3 linked regions of the Homo sapiens genome follow. The protein of the gene in region 3 purifies or fractionates together with the protein of the main gene of each other region. This does not show direct contact. Each region holds a gene or a part of one and is shown on either strand. Other genes may lie near its edges. The genes, in order: ATG2B, ECPAS and SLC7A9.

The links.
Region 1: the proteins of SLC7A9 (region 3) and ATG2B purify together in Homo sapiens (affinity purification with mass spectrometry; one large-scale study listed by BioGRID and IntAct). This does not show direct contact.
Region 2: the proteins of SLC7A9 (region 3) and ECPAS purify together in Homo sapiens (affinity purification with mass spectrometry; one large-scale study listed by BioGRID and IntAct). This does not show direct contact.

Annotation. Positions count from the first base shown.
Region 1 is NC_000014.9:96,278,669-96,281,148, forward strand, and holds the end of ATG2B (autophagy-related protein 2 homolog B), read right to left. Parts: 3' UTR 527-2,480; downstream 1-526. UniProt on the Homo sapiens protein: Lipid transfer protein required for both autophagosome formation and regulation of lipid droplet morphology and dispersion.
Region 2 is NC_000009.12:111,372,815-111,376,470, forward strand, and holds part of ECPAS (proteasome adapter and scaffold protein ECM29), read right to left. Parts: intron 2,389-3,656; coding exon 2,299-2,388; intron 1,225-2,298; coding exon 1,158-1,224; intron 593-1,157; coding exon 501-592; intron 423-500; coding exon 356-422; intron 1-355. UniProt on the Homo sapiens protein: Adapter/scaffolding protein that binds to the 26S proteasome, motor proteins and other compartment specific proteins. May couple the proteasome to different compartments including endosome, endoplasmic reticulum and centrosome.
Region 3 is NC_000019.10:32,859,622-32,863,277, forward strand, and holds part of SLC7A9 (B(0,+)-type amino acid transporter 1), read right to left. Parts: intron 2,966-3,656; coding exon 2,840-2,965; intron 2,597-2,839; coding exon 2,497-2,596; intron 1,030-2,496; coding exon 985-1,029; intron 344-984; coding exon 220-343; intron 1-219. UniProt on the Homo sapiens protein: Associates with SLC3A1 to form a functional transporter complex that mediates the electrogenic exchange between cationic amino acids and neutral amino acids, with a stoichiometry of 1:1.

The sequences.
Region 1 (2,480 bases), on a different chromosome or scaffold from region 3:
ACTTTGAGGCCAGGGCAGGCCCAGAGCTGAGAGGGGATTAGAGAAGAGCTACCAAGTCTTCACTTGGCTCAGAGACAGCCACGAGGTGCCTGTGGGCTTCCCTTACCCTGTGCTGCCCACCATGTGCTGAGTATTTCCTTCCTAGCACCTGTCTGTCACATGGAGTGGTCACATCTCTTGCTGGGACCCTGGCTGATACTGAATGTGAATGTTACATTGTCAATACTGATACTGAATGTGAATGTTACATACCCTGGCTGATACTGAATGTGAATGTCCCCCTGCCCTGGTGAATGAGGCAGGGCAGTGTAATACACTGGGTCTCAGAACTTGTCTGCACATGAGAACCAGGGGATCTCTCAAAAATGCCAAAGCGCAGCCCACACCAAAGACCAGCTAAATCCCAATCCCTGGGGTGTATTTTTAAAGCTCCCCAGGGGACTAATGTGCAGACAAGTTTGGGAACCATGACACAGTGGCCAAGAGTGTTGTCGAGTGCCAAGCAGAGGAGTCGCCACATAGGAAATAGTCAATCAATGATGAACTTTTATTTCATATATATTTATATTTTAAAAATTATTACAAGTATTGCTAAAATCAAGAAAACGTGAGCTTACATTGAATAAAGGACATCTGTAAGTAGTAATCATGTGATCTTGGGCAAAGAATTTCCCCTCTCCGGGCTTCGATTTCCTCACCTGCAGACAGGACTAGATGACCACTCGGGTTCACTCACTCATTCATTCATTCATTCACTCATTCACCATTTGCTGATCCCTGACTCTGGGCAAGGCACTGTGCTAGGCACCGGGTCCCTAAGTCCCTTGCCCTCCTGAAGGAAGTCAAACAGGGAAACAGACGTGGATCTACAGTATGCGGGGAGTGCCGCAAAGTTTAACAAACAAAAAAAAGGAAAGCATGCTATAGTGGGAAACAGAGAGGAAGGGAGGGTGGCCAGGCTGCCTGAAGTGGAGCCTCCGGGCTGAGACAGCAGGAGCAGCCAGAGATCCCGACAGAGCATCCGAGTTGGGGCGGCCATAGCGCGTTCTTGCCCCAGGCTGTGCATGATTTTCCCCAGGAGAGCTCTTAGCCCAGTGATTTTTAACAGGGGATTTTTGTCATATTTGGCATATTTGGCCATGTCTGGAGACGTCTTTGGCTGTCACAACTGGGGGAGGGGAGTTTGTTACTGGCATCCAGTGGCCAGAGGCCAGCGGGGGGTGGGAGGGTGGCAACATCCCCTGCATCCTACAATGCACAGGCTGGTCCCAAATGTCAACTGCTGAGGTGGAGAAACCCGACTTTAGCCCCATTCTGAGATTTTGCTTTAATCAGTGTTGACTGTGGCCTGTGGTGCAGCATTTATAGAAAGAAATCTTCCAGGTGGTGCTAACCCCTACTCACGGGCATGCAGAACTGAACCGCTGGGGTGGCTAAGCACAGCCAGAAGAGGGGAGAGGGGCTGGAGACGCCAGGAAGAGATCAAGCACATTTTCTTGCTCAAATATTCTAAGAGCCTTTAATCTCAATCTTCTAGCAAAATTCTGTGGTTTCCCAATTAGTGAAGACTTTTTGCTAAGTTAGGTAACTGCTCCAAGCTTTTCTTAAATGAAGTCCTGGGAAGAGCATGAGGTCTGGAAGTCAAACCATGTGACGGTGAGCAAGTTTCTTGACCTCTCTGAACCTGTCTCCTCATCTGGAAAACAGGGACTCTAGTAACTGCCTCTGAGTGGGGGCTGTGAAATTATAAAAAGACAGTAGGATACTTGGCACACAGTAAGCATCTCACAATTGTCCCCATCCCTTTTTTCAACAAGAGCCATGGGTGAAGTGTGACTTGTCATTTTTTCCCTAATTGTTCAAAGTGGATGTTATATAGTCACATCTGTCACAACAAAATCTTTTAAAGTAAATTGCCCTTAAAAATAAGTATGTCTGGCCAGGCACGGTGGCTCATGCCTGTAATCCCAGCATTTTTGGAGGCTGAGGTCAAGAGTTCGAGACCAGGCTGAGGTTAACCTGGCCAACACGGTGAAACCTCGTCTCTACTAAAAAAACAAAAAATTTGTGGGGCGTGGTGGCAGGTGCCTGTAATCCCAACTACTCAGGAGGCTGAGGCAAGAGAATCGCTTGAACCCAGGAGGTGGAGGCTGCAGTGAGCTAAGATTGCTCCATTGTACTCCAGCCTGGGCAACAAGAGCAAAGCTCCGTCTGAAAAAATAAATAAATAAAATAAAAATAAGTATGTCTTTTAAATATTCCCTTCATAAGTAAAAATACTCCTCCAAATAGTTATCAGTTTCGTGATATCAAACTAGGAGGTGTGTTTGCTGCAAGTCCTTATTGCAGGGATAGGATAACTAATAGAGGGACTAAAATCCAAAGCAGGGAGGGAAGAACTGTTAAAACTCCATACAGCTCAGCAATCAGTAGCAGACAGACCCAAGATCTGCTATCAGAAGCATCAGGGGCACTGGAAC
Region 2 (3,656 bases), on a different chromosome or scaffold from region 3:
TGAGCTCGGGAGTTTAAGACCAGCCTGGGCAACATGGCGAAACCCCACCTATACAAAAAATACAAAAATTAACCAGGCGTGGTGGCACGTGCCTGTAGTTCCAGCTACTCAGGAGGCTGAGACACAAGAATCGCTTGAGCCCAGGAGGCTGAGGTTGCAGTGAGCTGAGATAGCACCACTGCACTCCAACCTCAGCGACAAAGCCAGACACCATCTCAAAAAAAAAGAAAAGAAAAGAAACAAATGTTTCTAGCAAATCACATAAAATCATGGAGGGTAAGACCTAATTTGTACTGTTTTACTGGGCTGTTAACATCTAAATTTAAAATGACATAAAATAGAAAAAGAAAGGTACCTTCTTTCTCCATATACCACCCATTGAGCTTCTGCAGGAGTTTTTCAGTGCTGCTATCCCGTGAGGTCTGAAAAAGAAACAATCCTAAGTATTTCTTTATAACTGTCAAAGAGTTTTATTTAACTAAGCAAGAAATTTAACTCACCCGAACTAAATGGCCCATAGCAAATGCACAAGATTTCTGAATCACACTGTTCCGATCTGTCAGGCCACTCAGCAAAGCACTCATAAGTTTACCTACCAGAAATAAAGAGAAAAAAATCTGATACTTGGTTGACCAAATGTTCCACTCTGTTCCCAGAACCCAAACAAACCTAACCCTGTAATTAACATCTGATTTACTCCACAGTAGTTTAGATTTCTGGATGTTATATTTATATATCCATTTGCTTCCTTTTACATGATATAAAGTTAAAATTAAACTAGAATATCGTGGAAAAAGATGCAAAATAAGAACGAGGTATATAAAGAACACTAGTCCAGTCTAGAAGCCAATCTAAGAAGAGAAAAATGCTGATGTAAAATCAGCTATCAATGGTAAGTCCTGTGGAAAAGAGGATACTTTTACCTCCTTATACCACTAAGGAATAATCAAATGTTTATGAACAGTGAAAAGCTGCTAAACTTGATAAACTCTGCACCTCCTGCAGACAAAGAAATGAAGGAGTCAGGGGACTGAGGGGAGAAAAGGCACACAGCATCACAAGCAGGTCTGAATGATAAGTATTTTTCCTTTTTAAAACTCTGTCACACAAGACAGGGCTGTGCAAAAATATCACCACACATCCCTTGACAAACTCACCTGAGTAAGGTGTTAGGTCCTGAGGACACTGAGTAGTTAATGACACAATGACACTGGCACAGCCACCCTACAGGGTTACAAAAGCAAAGGTCTAAATCTGATGGTCACAATGTTCTACCTACCAAACCATTGGCTTAGGTGCCAAAAATTTAAACATATAAAATACATGAAGCCTAATACCCCCTCCAGGACTCAATATAGAAAAAGGCAAACTCTTAAACTAGTAATGCAGCGATTTTTTTTAAACCTCCAAGAGAAAGATGGGTGATCTCAGACATTGTGAAAAAGAAAGAAAACTGGTACAATCTTCTGGAAAAGCAAAATATGTCATCTTGTCCATCACTGTGCTAACATTTCCATTTCCAGAAATTTAACCAAATATCTTCAGGTGTGCCTGAAGACACTCATCACAGTGCTTTACTATTTTTTTCAAAAACTGAAAACAAATCAGATGTTCCTTGATGGAGTAAAATAAATGATGTTACATCCATACAGTGGAGTATCATACGGCCATTAGAAGAGGACACTGCAGAAGATACATGTGCAGAAAAGACTGGAAGGAAACACTTCAAAATATTAACAGCAGTTATCTCTGTATGGCAAAATTCTGGACAATTTTTATTTTAACTTTCTCCTAATCTATAAATGCTAAAATTTTAAAATACCAGCAAGTGTTAATTTTGTCATAAGAAAAAATGTGAGTTATTAATTTGTTGTTAAAAGGGTGGTAGGGGGGTGTCTGATCCTTCAAAGATCTTGAAAACTAGGACATTTTTCTATTCAAACACTGCTGACCCCTCTGTGAAAAATGCAATTGCCACCTAAAACAATCCATGCCCTAATAACTGGATGTGCATTTCCATGAACTGCTAATGAATGACAACCCAGAGGGTATGTACACGGCAACCAGAGAACAGAAATGATTCCACTAAATAAGTTAATACTTACTGGAACAGTTAGATGTTTTATTTCTTGAACCAGTTACATGTTTTCAGTTATCAGTGCAACCACAGAAATAAAATGGTTAGTGTATAATATTAGATTTTGTGGTAAAACATGAATTTCAAACATGATGGCTGTTATATCCTTATGGCCAGAACTAATGAAGATGCACATTTCCTCTTGTGGAAAGTACACTTACCTTAGTTCCAAGACCTACACCACTTCTGATCAGTTCACACAACCTAGGAACTAGCTCGCCCAGCACTGACACATCAAGGTATTGCAGGCACTTTTGAAAAAGGACAAATATAAAGGTAAGCCTTGGCAAATAAGTCAGGACCACATCTTCAATTAAAAACTGCCCTTGTCAAACGTGTACCAACTGGATTTGACATGAAGTTGAAAAATCACTGCTTGCTTCTGCTCTGATTTCAATATTAAAACCACTATTGTACTACAAACAGAAAAATTATTCATCAGTGATTCAACACTAAAAACAAACAAAAAAATGAAAAACATCAATTTGCTAAAAAAGAAAAATAATGATTACTCAAGAATGAAGAATCTTTCTGGGCCTACTTCCTCTTTATCAATCCATGTTTAGTATAAAAAACCTAAACTAAATATTGATCTTCTACAGTGGGCCTACCCTACCAAACCCCCTCTAATGAGTCAACTTCTTAGATGACTTTTCCTATAAATTGCTGGCCTTTATTTTTGAAAATGCAATTAACATGTTTTCTATTACTAATGAATATAACTAAATGGTATTCACTAACTATTCCTATTTCTTTAAATTTTTATTTCCCCCCAATAATCCAACTAAGACATAACATTCTTAGACCAAATTTTGGTAATACTCCCCCAGCAGGCACTAAAAAATAGCTACTTCTCTTCACCAGTTTAACATAGTTTTTTGTACACTTCAGTTTTTTTAGGGGTTGGATCTATACCTTCAGAGTCCTGCTAAAGGTACAGATCTGCTTAGCAAACTAATTTCCAGTAAACACAATCATAGCTAACTAACCATTACAGGGAATGCACAACAGAGTAACTTTACCAAGACTCCAGGAAGTTTAGAAATCAGAACCTCAGAATGCCAAGCAGCCCTTTACTGCAAATGCCTTCCTATGACTAAAACAACATATCGACATTGCCCAATCTCTTCACATACCTTTATGTTACCTACTTCATTAAATACCTCCACAGCTTATAACTTTCCTAGTTCCTCCCAAAGATAACTATTAGGCACAGGCACAACTCTGAACCTTTCTAAATAGGCAGATCAAAAGACTACAGATGTAAATTTATAGAGAGCTCTTGATATGTTGTTGTCTCTTGTAATACAAATTTGGACCAACTGTTTCTGGTATTTGGGGAATTATTTATTCCACTTAGTAACAGAGAAGAAAAGAGAAATATACTAAGAAAAAACTGGAGTCACAACAGCTGCTTGACTCATCCCATAAGTCTCTGCTTCATTTAACATAGCCTGAAGACTTTGAAGAATTACACTTTCAGGTAAGCAAACAAACCCTCTCATTATTATTTAAGACA
Region 3 (3,656 bases):
CCTGGCACTTTCTGCCTCTGCTTCATGCTTGCCTGCCGAACCCTCACCCTGGCTAGCCCGGCCCTGCCTCCAGCTCCATGCCGTGCGTGCCCAGTCCATGTCCCCGTCCGTGAATATCGCCCTCCTTCCCTGGGAGGGAGCTCACCTCCAGTGCTGACACCTGCCTTACCCCTTCCCACAAGCCACAGCCCCCGCCAGCAGCGATGCCCGGGCACTCACCACAGCCACCGCCTGGGACTGCAGGAGTTCGGTGGCAGTCATCACGGTGAAGTAGGACACGTTCATGAGGATGTAGCACGCCGTCACCAGGGGGATCCCGATGATAATGGCCAAAGGCAGGTTTCTGGGAGGGGCAATGACACGGAGACCCACGTTCAGACCACAGCCTCCCGCGGAAGATGGACGCCCTCCCTGAGGCCCTCCCAGGGAGAAGATTCGCAGGTAGCAGAGGCCCAGCAGGAACATAAGACATTTTCAAATGAGAATGCTGCCTCTCTCAGACTCCAGAGCAGTTCACATGGAACTGTTTATAAAGCAAAATAAGCCAGAGATAAAGGAAGACCAAGCTCTTCCCTCCCTTAGGAGCCACTGCTCTGTCCCAAACCAAACCAAACTCTAAGCGTGCATAGTGAGCTCATAAGAAACCATTCGCTGGCCGGGTGCAGTGGCTCACACCTGTAATCCCAGCACTTTGGGAGGCCGAGATGGGCGAATCTCTTGAGGTTGGGAGTTCAAGACCAGCCTGGCCAACATGGCAAAATCTCATCTCTACTAAAAAAATACAAAAATGAGTGAGCTGAGATTGCACCACTGCACTCCAGCCTAGGCAACAGAGCAAGACTCTGTCTCAAAAAAAAAAAAAAAGAAATAATTCACTGTCGGGAAGGGCATCATGGAATACCCAGGGAAATAGCTCCAGCCTTCACCAGGAGAAGAGAAATCAGGCTGCCCGGCTACTGTCCTCTGCACTGATTCAGCTGTTACCTGTAAGGGTTTCTAAGTTCTTCTGTGATGTAATTGAGTTGATTCCTGGAAAAAGGAAAGTAACAAGCGTCACACACCTTGACTTTCTTTTTCGATAATGAAACCCACAATAATAAATGTTGGCCTCATTTAAGATTCTCTACCAGAGAAAAAAATTCTCCTGCAGGAATTCCAGGTGAATTTTTTTCCAGGTGAATGGCCCTGCTAGTGGTGGGGCCTGGGGCCCTACCCAGACCTACACATCTGTCAGCTGGTTGAGCCTTTGCCCTCCTCGGGAATCACACGGATTTTCAAGAATAATCAGGAGTAGTGAGTCCCCAGGGTGCTTTGAAAAAATGGAATATTCTTTGTCTGAAAAGGGAATTAAATCTATAAATGCTTTGCAGGAGAGAAGGACCATCGTTGCAGATGGCCATGCTTCTTCCTTAAAGGACAAAAATGGGCCAGGCATAGTGGCGCACGTCTGTAATCCCAGCACTTTGAGAAGCCGAGGTGGGCAGATCACTTGAAGTCAGGAGTTCAAGACTAGCCTGGCCAACATGGTAAAACCTCGTCTCTACTAAAAATACAAAAATTAGCCCTGCATGGTGGCAGGTGCCTGTAATCCCAGCTAGTCGGGAGGCTGAGGCAGGAGAATTGCTTGAACCTGGGGGATTCAAGCAATTGCAGTGAGCCGAGATCTCACCACAGCACTCCAGCCTGGGTAATAGAGTGAGACTCCGTCTCAAAAAAAAAAGAAAAAAAAGGACAAAAACAGAATCTCATCCACTAAACTCGATAAATATATAAAATTTATATGGTATTATTTATTTTTGTAGGGCAGTCCCCCAAACCATAATAGATTCAGAGAGGCTCCCAAACCTAATGATTTTCAAGGTTAAATAGAAGTGCTATTGAGTATTCTTTGTTTAATCAAGAGCTTGGGGCTGGGCGCAGTGGCTCACGCCTGTAAACCCAGCACTTTGGGAGGCCGAGGAGAGAGAATTGCTTGAGTGTAGGAGTTTGAGAGCAGCTTGGGCAACACAGAGAGACTGTCTCTACAAAGCATAAAAATAAAAAATTATCAGGGCATGGCAGCTCCTATCTGTAGTCCCAGCTACTCAGGAGGCTGAGGCGGGAAGCTGACTTGAGCCCAGGAGCTCAAGGCTGCAGTGAGCTATGATCACGCCATTGCACTCCAGCCTGGGTGACCAAGTGAGATCCTGTCTTAAAAAAACAAAACAAAACAAAACAGAAAACCTGAGCTTGGGCCCTGGCTGCCTCTGATTTGGCTGAGCCTGTGTTGGCCCAGTGAGGGTTCTACACAGAGCACTCTGGCTGACTGAGCAGGTGTCTCAGGGAATAAAGGGGAGAGGTTGTCGCATCCTTCACAAAAAGGAAATGTGAGGGTGAATGTCAGAGTCACACCAAACCCCAGAAAGGAGAACTCATTGTTTTCCATGACAGGTGGAGTTAAAGTCACCTGGAGAACCCCACCCACCCCCAGACTCGGGACATCTCAGGACACCTCACCATCCATCATAGGCCCAGAGTCCATTGTAAAACGCCAGGCTGATGGCTCCCACAGACAGCTGGGCGCCCTCGAAAGAATTATCAAAATTCTTTGTGTTTCCTGTAATGAAGCCAGACAGTGAACGGCGGGTGTCAACCGGGCAGATCTTGAGTGTATCTCCACGGGAAAGATGGGCATGATTGTGACCCCAGCTTAATAAACACGCCCTGAAACTAAGGATCCCTCCCACCGAGTTCCTGCCATGCTTCCTTGGAGATGGGCTCGTGGGGCAAGGCTGCTCCTGCTCCCAGTGGAAGGGCGTTTGGTGTGTGCCCGTGCAGGGCCCACCCTCCCGTGGGTCACCTTGGGCCAGGAGCACCAGCCCGCTGATGATGATGATGGCCACGATCACCAGCTTGGCCGCGGTGAAGATGTTCTGGACGTAGCTTCCCAGCCGCACGCTCAGTGAGTTCACTGTCGAGATGAACACTGGAAGGGTGGGGACAGTTTCTGCATTTATGGTTTTCAGCAAAGCCCTGGAGAGAGTCTCCTTTCTTTTATATATTTTTTATTTTTTTTTTTTTTTGAGATGGAGTCTCACTCTGTCACCCAGGCTGGAGAGCAGTGGCATGATCTCAGCTCACGATCTCAGCAATCTTTGCCTCCCCGGTTCAAGCAATTCTCCTGCCTCAGCCTCCTGAGTAGCTAGGACGACAGGTGCACGCCACTATGCCCAGCTAATTTTTGTATTTTTAGTAGAGAGCTTGTCTGGAGGTTCTAGCGGGGGAGCGCAGCTACTCATATACCCTTGACCGAAGACCAGCCCTCCTCTATCGGGGATGGTCATCCTTTTCCACCGAGTGCGCAGCTTCGGGAGGGATGCACGTGGAGCAGTGAGGGAGGAAGAGGACACTGGCCTAGCCAGCCAGATCACCTGAATCAACCCTGGCGATCAGTGGGGTGACAGATGTCCCTGCCAGATCGCCCTCATATCCAATTTTTGTAATTTTATTTTTATCTATTTATTTATTTGAGATGGAGTCTCACTCTGTCGTCCAGGCTGGAGTGCAATGGCACAGTCTCAGCTAAATGCAACCTCCACCTCCCGGGTTCAAGGAATTCTCCTGCCTCAGTCTCCCCAGTAGCTGGGATTACAGGCATGCACTACCCCACCACCCCC